2 separate regions of the Homo sapiens genome follow, and region 2 is linked to region 1. The links come from fine-mapping of genetic effects on gene expression. A gene starts in region 1. The other region holds a variant in brackets. All regions are shown on one strand. Distances are between the middles of the regions. Region 1 holds the start of ZFHX2 (zinc finger homeobox 2). Region 2 holds the start of LOC124903289 (a long non-coding RNA gene).

The links. PIP is the estimated chance that this variant, and not a neighbour inherited with it, causes the effect.
Region 2: its variant is the best candidate, but not a certain one, in a credible set for the expression of ZFHX2 in prostate (GTEx, PIP 0.72).

Annotation. Positions count from the first base shown.
Region 1 is chr14:23,548,437-23,553,802 of GRCh38, forward strand. ZFHX2 (zinc finger homeobox 2) reads right to left here and starts at 3,329. Exons shown (of 10, transcript NM_033400.3): 1 at 2,907-3,329. It also overlaps a transcript of THTPA not described here. RefSeq lists enhancers at 2,121-2,783, 3,633-3,682 and a silencer at 3,263-3,502.
Region 2 is chr14:23,525,406-23,530,771 of GRCh38, forward strand. ZFHX2 (zinc finger homeobox 2) reads right to left here. Exons shown (of 10, transcript NM_033400.3): 5 at 4,715-4,789; 6 at 4,305-4,363; 7 at 2,199-2,399; 8 at 1,442-1,568; 9 at 1-1,274. LOC124903289 (a long non-coding RNA gene) reads left to right here and starts at 4,609. Exons shown (of 2, transcript XR_007064079.1): 1 at 4,609-4,679; 2 at 5,041-5,366. It also overlaps a transcript of THTPA not described here. RefSeq lists an enhancer at 1-172. The variant A/G (reference allele first, on the strand shown) is at 2,158.

The sequences.
Region 1 (5,366 bases):
AGCAAGTGATTCCTGTATGGGTCTCAAGGTAACACCAGCTGCCTCTGACATCATGGAGGGAGGAACCCTGTCAGGTTGCCAAGGCAATACCAGCAATTTATGACATCAGAGGCTTGAGGTCTTTGGTTCTCAGGGGCTGGGAAGATTCAAGTTCCTCTCAGCTGAAGTTTATGGGAATTCTACTTTTTCATCTCTTTGCTTGTGTTCTGGCTTGGGAATGAAATACAAAGGCCTTTCGTGGGGGTAGTGAGTGATTAGGCCAATGAAATGAATGCTCGTGAGGTTCTCTCTCTCTCTGTCTCTTCCCTGGATATTTCTGCTTTCTCTCCCTCTCTTGGGCATTTCTCTCTTCTGGGGCTTCGCCCAGTGGTATTCCTGCTATTTGTGCTATGCTTTTTTTCCAACCCCCCGGCGCCCCCGCAGTGCTCTCGCTCTCTTCGCATCAGTCACGCTGTGTCCTCCTCACACCAGAGGCATTTGTTTCCTTTGATACCTCATCCTCTCCTCTTTTCCTCCTACCAAGCTCTGTGCAGCTCTGATCTGCCTCAGCACTCCTTCGTTTGCCATCCATTTACCTTCTTTGTACCATACTCTCTTCCCATCTCATCTTGTTCAGCAATTCCTCCCTTCCCCCTCTTTACTACTGTATTAATTTCATAGTGCTTTTTCTGTTGACCTCCACTTTAGGAATATTCTATCATTTCTCTTCCTTTTACCTTCTGTATTGCTATCAACACGTTTTGTTTCATTCTTCCAATTTCTTATTAATCACCCCTTGGTTCCTCCCCTGCCCCCGAGTCCGCATAGATTTTCCTCCCTTCCTTTGCACATCCCTCACGTCATACATTTCTCTACCCCATGTGTTTATTGCACCGACCACCCCTTTCTTTCTTTAATTCTGTTCACCTCTGAAATCGTCCATCTTCTGCCCATGTCTGCCTGCTCCTTTTACCTTTCCAAGCTCCTGAGGTTTGGAAAAACAATGATGGGCTAAAAACTAAGGTAAACTCTCCAGATCCTTTATCCACCCTTACTGTTCTTCAGGCTAAATGAACTTGGCTCCTTACATACGATAGCTTTTATTACACTAATAAACACTGCCTCATTAAAAAAAAATGGTGCTGGATCTAAATATGATAGTAGCAGGGGCCTAGGAAGAAGATGAACTAAAAAGTGAAGAAAAAGCAACTGATATCTAGAATGAACTGAAGGATGGGGGGCAACCAGGCAGGGTGGAGCTTAGAGTCCTAGGGAATGTCCCCTTACAAAATCAAAGTTGACAGTTAACTGACATAATGGCACTGACTGATGGAGGGGTTATATGCCCCTGGAAGCTCATTAAATTTATTTCTTGGCCTGTTTATGTGCCTTCACAAACCATACCCCACACCTCTCCCAGCCCTTTGCTTGCTGGTACTTTCTGCTGCTGGGGTTAAAATGCTGGATAAGAGGAAAAGGGATAAAAGAAACTAGAAACTTAGGGTGATCAAGAAGAAAAGGTAGGAAGAGGGCAGATTATGGGAACAAAGGTGGAAACTCAGAGCTCATGGGAAACAGATGGAAAAAAGGGGTGAAGCAAAATGGGGAAATAAAAAATATACAATGATACAGTGGGGGAAGGGAGTAAAATTAAGTCAGCAGGGAAGAGGTTTTGTTGTGCGAAGCTCCTGGAAAGGCAGATGACACGCATGAGACCAGAAGGTGAGGTTCTGATGAGGGAGACAGGCACATGGCAAAGGGGACAGTCAACAATGCTAGGAAGTTCCAAAGCTTCTCTGGTGATGGTGGAAGAGGAGGCTGTCCTGGCCATGCTGAAGGCACTAGAGGCTTTGGCGAAGACACATTTGCTCCATCATCCCACTCCTCCAGGCCCTGACTGTGACCACCACAATCATGACTGATAAGCAAATTCCAAAGTAGCCTGAAAAGGCCAGAGATATCCAGACAGACTCTGAAGGAGAGGGCATGGAATCCTAGACCGACAGAACAGGCAGCCAAGGCGTGACACATAGTGATAGAGACACACAAGGAGAGGATCACTCAGATGGGAAGGGTCACAAGTGGAGACAGTGACATACAGATCCAGAGATGGATGGGATGGAAGAGACAAGATGAAGAACAGCAAAACCAAAAGTCAGGGACACATGGACAGAGATCAGCGGGGCTACAGGCACAGCGAGGAAGCGTGGTCCTGTGCTTGAAAATGATAGGGCTGCTCAGAGGGGCAGACGAGCGGATGGGGGTGGTAGGATGGGCGTGCAGGACAGACACGCTTCACCTTGAATGGGCTTATGGCCTCCCCTCACCTACTCAACACTTTCAAAAAAAGGAATGGAAAGCCCAACTTCAGCCAAAAACGAACGAAGACTGAGAGTATCCACGTCCCCTCCCACTCCACGCCCCAGCGCGCTAGCCCATCCATCAGCCCGCCGGCCGCGGTTCTCCCATCCCACAGCCGGCGGGGGGCCGCCGAGACCCAGGACCCTCCAGGCTGACAGCTCTGAGCCCTCACACTCACCGGGCCTCCCCTTCCCCCCGGGATCCCCGCTCCCTGCCCAACTCGGCGCGGTCCGTCTAGGCTTTCCATACCCTTCGTCTGTCCGGCGGGCCTCTGCCTTTCCCGTTCCCGTTTCTCCCTCCACCCCCGCATCTCTCTTCCCCCATCCTCGCGCACGCCCTCTTCCTCCCACACCCCTGTCTGCTATCTCCCAGGGCTCTCGGTCTGTCTGTCCGTCCGTCCTTGTCCCCTCCCCCAGCCCCTTCCCGTCCCTCTCCGTCCCCTCCAGCGGCAGTCTCCAAGCGCCTCCTCTCCCGTCTCGAGCTTCCAAAGAGCAAGGAAGGGAAGAAGAGAGAGAGGGAGAGGAGAAAAAAACCAACCCAGCAGCATCGGAAATCGATGCACTTACACCTCAGCTGGAAGCAGGGACGGGAGTCGAACCGCGGCCACCGAGCAGCGCGAGGCGGGGAGGGGAGGGGGCGGCTCTTGGAAGGGACTTCTCCGATGTGTTGATTCCTCTTTTTTCCCCTCCTCCTCCCTCCCTCCAGCGCTCGCTCCGGGGCGTCAGGGACGGAGACGGAAAAAAATAAATAAATAAATTCACGGCGGTGAGGGAAGTGAAGGAAAATAATCAATGCTATTTGGCTGCGGCTGAAGTGTTTCCCCGGCTTCGTGAGGGGGTTTCCATTGATTCACCCTGGGCACTCGCTCGCTCCCTGCCTCCTCCTCCTCCTCCTCCTTCTCCTCCTCGCCCTCCTCCTCCTCCTCCTCCTCGCCCTCACTCCTCCGCCTCATTCACTGGCTGGAGTCTAGGCGTCCCACACAATGGAATAATCAATACCCAGGCGCCCGGGGCTGCCCCACTGAGCAGGTGCAGCGACCCGCCCGCCGCGGCGCATGCCGGGAGTTGTAGTCTGTTCGCGCCCGCCCGCCTGCCTCGCGGGACCCAGGGCCGGGGGCAGGCCGGCCAGCCCACCAGGTCGCCTCCAGGTTCAAGCCGGTGCCTGCAAAGAGGGCAGGCCCCTTTAAACTCTTTTCCGTCTCCTCTCCTCTTCATCCTGTGGCCTGCAGAAACCATACATGTGTTTTGTTGTTTTGTTTTAAATCAGCTTCAGAACAAGCCCTGAGCCGCCCAAGGCCTCCTTTTTTCATTCTCTTCTTCCTGCCTTATTATTCCGCCTCCCCCATCTCCCCCCGCGAAATTGGGTACTAGAACCTTCTCTACCGCAGCAATTACTCTTTAGTCTCTGAGAGCTTCTGCCTCCTCCACACGGTTACATAGTCCCCTGAGCTGGGTTGGGGGAGGTTCGGGCTCCTCCTCATCTTCAGTTTATCGCTTATTAAGTGCTCCTGAATTTTTTTTTTTTTTTTTTTTCTGGAGACGGAGTCTCACTCAGTCGCCCAGGTTGGAGTGCAGTGGTGCGATCTCGGCTCACTGCAACCTCCACCACCGGGTTCAAGCGATTCTCCTACCTCAGCCTCCTAAGTAGCTGGGATTACAGGCATGCATCAACACACCCAGCTAATTTTTGTATTTTTAGTAGAGACGGGGTTTCACCACGTTGGTCAAGCTGGTCTCGAACTCCTGACCTTGTGATCCGCCTGCCTCGGCCTCCCAAAGTGCTGGGATTACAGGTGTGAACCACCACCGCGCCCAGCCCGTTTTTTTGTTTGTTTGTTTTTTTCTTGAGACAGAGTCACTCTGTCGCCCAGGCTGCAGTGCAGTGGCATGATCCCGGCTCACTGCAACCTTCACCTCCCAGGTTCAAGTGATTCTCCTGCCTCAGCCTCCCAAGTAGCTGGGATTGTAGGTGCCCACCACCATGCCCTGCTAATTTTGTATTTTTAGTAGAGACGGGGGTTTCACCATCTTAGCCAGGCTGGTCTCGAACTCCTGACCTCAGGTGATCCACCGGCCTCAGCCTCCCAAAGTCCTGGGATTATAGGGGTGATCCACCTCACCCGGCCGCTCCTGTATTCTAATAATAATTTTTAAGATTTCTTGAATGCACAGGGACAGTTCCAAGCACTTTTACATACATTGTTTACTCCTCTCAATACCTCAAGCATGAGGTAGATGCTATTATAGTCTCATTTATTGAGGAAACTAAGGCACAAACAAGTGAATTAACAGGCCCAAGGTCCAATGGCCAATAAGTAAGTGACAGTGCCAGGACTCAAAAACCTCCATGGTCTGGCTCCAGGGCCCATACTAACTGCTATAGCCTACTTCTCTTAAACAACACAACAAAACCCTGAAGTTCACATGACAAAAAGGAGAGATAAATGAACATTTTGAGTTTATACTATGTGACAGTTTATGACTGAATCCTCACAGGTAACTGTGAGGCAGGCCACATTTTCTCAATGAAAAAGCAGAGGCTGGCCGGGCATGGTGGCTCACTCCTGTAATCCCAGCACTTTGGGAGGCTGAGGTGGGTAGATCACCTGAGGTCAGGAGTTCGAGACCAGCCTGACCAACATGGTGAAACCCTGTCTCTACTAAAAATACAAAATTAGCTGGGCGTGGTGGTGGGCACCTGTAATCCCAGCTACTCGGGAGGCTGAGGCAGAAGAATCGCTTGAACCCGGGGGGCAGAGGTTGCGGTGAGCCAAGATCACACCATTGCACTCCAGCCTGGGCAACAAGAGTGAAACTCCGTCTCAAAACCAAAAACAGGCCGGGCGTGGTGGCTCACACCTGTAATCCCAGCACTTTGGGAGGTGGAGGCGGGTGGATCACAAGATCAGGAGATCGAGACCATCCTGACTAACAGGGTAAAACCCCATCTCTACTAAAATTACAAAAAATTAGCCGGGCATGGTGGTGGGCACCTGTAGTCCCATCTACTTGGGAGGCTGAGGCAGG
Region 2 (5,366 bases), 23 kb before region 1:
CAGGGCTTCAAAGGGCAGAAAGCGGCGGTGGACATGTTCCTCGTGTGTCTTGAGGATAAGCATATTGGAGAAGAGTTTCCCACAGGCCCCACAGGCCAGCTTGTCCCCACCCCCGAGGGCCTCAGGTGGGGGTGGGGTAGGGGGAGGGGGCACAGCTTGCTTCCCTTCATTGTACTGGATCACCAGCTCAAAGCCAAAGTTTTCTAGAAGGGCTTTGGCTGCAGTGCGGGCAGCCTCGTTGGGCAATGGGTCGGGGGGTGAGGAAGGCCCTGCCTCATTACCCTCTTTGGCCATGGGGGGCCGCTCCCACTCCCGCTCAGCCAGCTCAGCCTTGGGAGGTTGGGGTGGAGGAGGAGGGGTGGCAGCTGGCAGGGACAGCACAGGTGCAGGCCCAGCTAGTGTCAGCTTGGGCCCCACCTTGAGATCGTGGAGGTAGAAGGGCAGGAGCAGCTGCTGCTGCTGGAGCTTAAGCAGTGATTCGGGCACCAGAGGGAAGGGGGGCAGGACTGGTGGGGTGAAGAGAGGGGCTGGGAATCGGTGCAGGTCCAAGGGAGGTGGGGGAGGGGACAGGAAAGGCAATCCAGATATGAAGCCACTGGTGTCAGGGCCCTTCTTCTCAGTGCCCACCTCCCCCTCTGTCTCGCCTTCCTTGGGCTCTTCTTGGCTGCGTTCTGGCCCTTCAATCTTGGAATCAGTCTTGGTTCCCCGAGAGCGAGTCTGATGCAGAACTGACCGCATGTGGATCTCCAGGGTGGAGCTCTGGTTGTAGGAGACTCTGCAGACTGTGCACTTAAAGGGCTTGTCTGTGGCAGCAGTGGTGGTGGGTGGGGCACCGGCCTCTCCCCGTGCAGGGGCAGAGGGGTCAATGGCAGCCTTCTTCATCTTGTGAAGGTGGGAGACAGAATTATAATGAACCAACAGAATATTCTTCTGGGTGAAGGACTCCTTACACACAGTGCACTTATAGGGCCGGGCAGGGTCGAGAAACTTGTCCAGGGCAAAGTTGGTGGTTTTCCGATAGGTCAGAGGGTGGCGAGAGTCAGCTGGAGCTGGCTCTGCAGAGCGGAGCTCCCCAGTGGTCCCCTCTTCCTCCTCAGCCATGGTGGGCGGAGGAGCTACGTCTTCAGCTTGGGCATCAGGTTCAGGGACTGGAGATGGGGCTGGAGAAGGGGGTTGGCCAGGGCTTCCTGAGGGTTTGTCTGGGACCTCAACTGAGGCCAGGGGAGGCTCAGGAAGAGGATCTGGACTGGCTTCTGGGGTCAGGTTAGGGCCTTCTAGGGGAGAGAGAAGAAAGTACAATGAGGAGGGAACTTCGTTTAAGCCAGACCCCACCCACTCAATACCAAGGCAGTTGACCTTGGCCTCAGTCATCTTCAGACCTTGTTGGCCCATGGAGTCCCCTTTCCTGGTACCTTGGGAGGTTTGCTGTTCCATTCCTTACCTGCTGCCTGGTCTCTGCTCGGTGTAGGCTCTGGCCCATGAGTGGGGGGTTCTTGGCCATTGTCCAGAGGGCTTAATGTGGGTGCAGACAGCACTTTGGTTGTAAATGTCATTTCTACAGTTGTAGCCTGCAATGAGAAAAAGCCTAGTGGCTTCACCACCACCCCCCACTGCCCCTATGCCACTCCTGACCCATCTGCCCTACACCTGTACTTGTGCCGAGATCCCTTGCCACAGATCCAGCCTCCTGTCTGAACAAACCTCCCACCTAATTGCTGCTTTTGCTACAGATGAGAGAGCCTGGGCTGCTACCTCTCCTATCTGGCTTCCTCTTTCCCCAAACCAGAAGTCATCATTCTTTGAGGCTACCTGGTCTGGCAGGCTGGTACCTGCTGTTCAACAACTCTTCTCAGGACTTAGTGGAGGTGAAACAGAAGCCTCTGCCTCATCTCTTAAGTAGAGGCAGCTAGACAAGCTCAGTTCTGAGTCTCCCTCTCTAAAATCCAACTTCAAATCCATGAAATGCTGCTTTTGTTGCCAACACATGCACTTGCCTGAATACTCCTGCCTCTTCCTCCCCTCCTGGATGGCCCTAACAAGGCCTTGTCGGACCGTCCTCACCCAGCCAACACACGCACTTGCCTGAATGCCCCCTGCCCCCAACACATGCACCTGCCTGAATACCCCTGCCTCTTCCTCCCCTCCTGCACAGCCCTA[A/G]TAAGGTCTTGTTGTACCGTCCTCACCCAGCCTGTACTCACTACAAGCAGCAGCTTCTCAACGCACTCGGGCACCACGTTGTGAAGGTGGCTAAGGTGGAAGTGCAGGGCAGGCCGGCCCACCAGCTGTTCCTGGCACAGTGGGCATCTGTACTTGGGCTGCACTGCATGCTGGGAGAGTGTATGAGCCCTCACCTGGCTGGACTCTGGGCTCAGGAAGCTGCAGTATGGACAGCAGTATACCTGGAGGGAACATATGGGCAGTGGACGAAGTGTCAGGGAAGGATGGGACCCACCATCACATAGTCCTTTGGATGCAGCACTGGCCCGCCCCCACTCCTTTTTTTTTTTTTTTTTTTTTTTTAGATGGAGTCTGGCTCTGTCACCCAGGCCGGAGTGCAGTGACGTGATCTCGGCTCACTGCAACCTCCGCCTTCCAGGTTCAAGCAATTCTCCTGCCCTCAGCCTCCCAAGCAGCTGGGATTACAGGCGTGTGCAACCACGCCCAGCTAATTTTTGTATTTTTTAGTGGAGACAGGGTTTTGCCACATTGGCCAGGTTGGTCTTGAACTCCTGATGCCAGGTGATCTACTCATCTTGGCTTCCCAAAGTGCTGGGATTACAGGCGTGAGCCACCACGCTTGGCCTCTCACTCCTAATTGAAGAGGAACTAGCCAGATAGGAAGGCATTATAGCAGACCCAGCCTCCAGCCACAGTCCTGAGAGCTGGCTCCTCCCCACTTTCCCTTGGATTGGGACAAAGGCCTAGCTTAGGCCGCTACCTTGCACTCCTTCTTTGTCTGGCCCTCTTCCACCATCCTGGCCTCTCTGCCTTTTCTTGGTGTGTCTTTCCCAGTCTTTGCTGCCTGCCTCAACTCTCCAGCTAACAGATGGCTCTGTACCTACTGCCCCCACCTTGGATTTAGTTTTCTTCTCTTACCTATCCTATCCTGTCGTGTCTTCTCTGTGAAATGGTTCCATTTCCTCTGGGCATTTTCTGGACCCAGAGGCTCCCTTGTCCCTGCCCACTCTGCCTCTGTGAACCATCACCTGGAAAGGGGCCCTACCTGTCTGCTCAGAAGCCAGCTCATCCTCCCTCAGGCTCAGCAGCTCCCACCTTATTTTCCATCTTTCTTTTTCCTTCTTCTTTTTCCTAATGTGAATAAACACCACAGCTCCCCCAGTGGCCCAGGAAAATTCTGGCCCAGCCCTCTCAGCACATTCTCAGCCACACTTCCAGAGGGGTGAGGCTGCCAGAGGCCCCACCATCACCTGACTGCCAGACCTACCCAGCCTGCATCCAGGCTGGCACCAGTGGCACAGGCCTGTGTGTCAGGGAGGGGATGACTGTAAAGGAAGGGGATCCAGATGCTCATCTTAACGCACCTAGCCCCTGGAGCAGACATCTGGAAGAGGTCTGTTGGCGGGAGCAGGAGTTAGGAAGAAAAGATGCTGAGGACATAAGGCATTACTTCAGCTTGCAGTAATGCAGTAACACTGCGTATTGCAATAACAATAAATGTTACATATTGTAGTCCAGTTTGGAGAGCTGTGAGGCACAGGATGGCATCTCAAACCAGAGGCTGGGAATCCCCTCAGAACACAGAGCTGCCATTCCTGGGTGCTGCCTAGGTCTGAGTCCTGGGGATTTAGAGATTTGTGGCACATGCTGTCAGTGTGAATCATTTGGTTGGTGCCCCTACCCTTAGTAAGAGGATGCCAGGACAGTTCCATCCAGGCTCAGGGCGTTTTGTAGGGTAGGAACACCGGTGTCTTGTCTTTCTGCTCCTAACTAAGGGATAAAGAGCTGGGCAGTAGCTGGTTGTTTGCTTTTGCCTTTCTCCTCCCCTCCTTCCAGCATGTACCCCCACTCTTTCCTACTCTCAGCACAATTCCTTTATTCATCTTTCCCTCAAGTTCCTGCTGTCTCCCTCCTATCATCTCCCTCTGTGCTTGACCCTGCTGGGCCAGCTCTGCCCCCGAAAGTGCTGAACATGTGGAACTGGATCTGGGTGGAATTTCTTAACTGTGCTATTCTGAGTGAAATAAGTCAAAGCATGACAAAATTACGTCTGCCTTTAGAATATGAGCAGATCTCAGTAAAGCCAGGCCCCCACTTCAGCTCTTCCCAGTTACCCCAATTCTGACCGTGGTCTGGTTGGCACTGTCTCTGGAAGGGCCAGTCTTGTTTTCTGTCTCTTCTGAAGCTGAGGATGAAAGAAGAGGAGATTAAGGAACCCTGACAGCCCTCAAGATGATTTGTAGCAGAGAGCTTCCAGGGTAGGGAGTTGGGCACTAGAGAAAGGGCAGGAAACTCAGTAGATAGGTGAGGCTTGGCAAGGGCTGACTCCGGGTCAGTAGGATGGTCAGGTCTGAGTTCTCAAAGAGGGCGGAAGTGCCTAGCCTCTCGTGGCTCAGCCTCCCTTCCCCCTGATGAGCCCTTTCTTTAATCAGTTTTGCTCCTTGAGCACAGACATTGCTGGGCTCCTGGATTACTGCAAGGTCCCGTGAGCGTCTCAGAAGGTAGGAGGACTGGGGGGAAGGGAGGGAAAACTCACCCAATTGTTCTGTCTTGTTCTGGGCATCTTTCTCAGGGGTGGGTGGCTCAGCTAAGGGGGTGACAGGAGCCTTCCCTGTGTAGGATGGGGGGAGAGTCAGCTTAAAGAGGTGTGGCATCAGGGAAGGGAGGACATAGGACAGAGGAAGCAGGACAAGCAGCCAGTCAATGAAGGAGAAAATGGATGGCTCAATCAGCAGGTAGGAGAGTATGAAAAGCCAACAAAAAGAAACACCCACACAGAAGATAGAGGGAAAATTACAGTATTAGAACTGGTAGGGCCTAAGAGATCATTTTATTAAGAGTCCAGTTCCTGTCCTTTTATAGAAGTCCAGCAGTAGACAGCAGAAACAAGACCAAACTCAGCTCCCTGTCTTAAATGACCCAGGAAATGGGAAGCCCCAGAGAAATGTAGTAGGAGGGGCACTGAAGAAGGAAGCCTTGGCTGAATGGAAGCAGCTGCTGCAGTGAGCAGGAAGTGGCAGGTCTAGCTGGAAGAGGAGATTACCGCTCAAGTAAGAATTGACAGATGTGTAGGAATTTATTTTCGGTGGCAGCCTAATTAAAGTGTTAAAGTTCCTTAACTCCATTCAGCCCTGCGCCAGGATCGTTAGCTATTGATCTGGGCCCCTCCGGCACTTAACTCCAGCCAG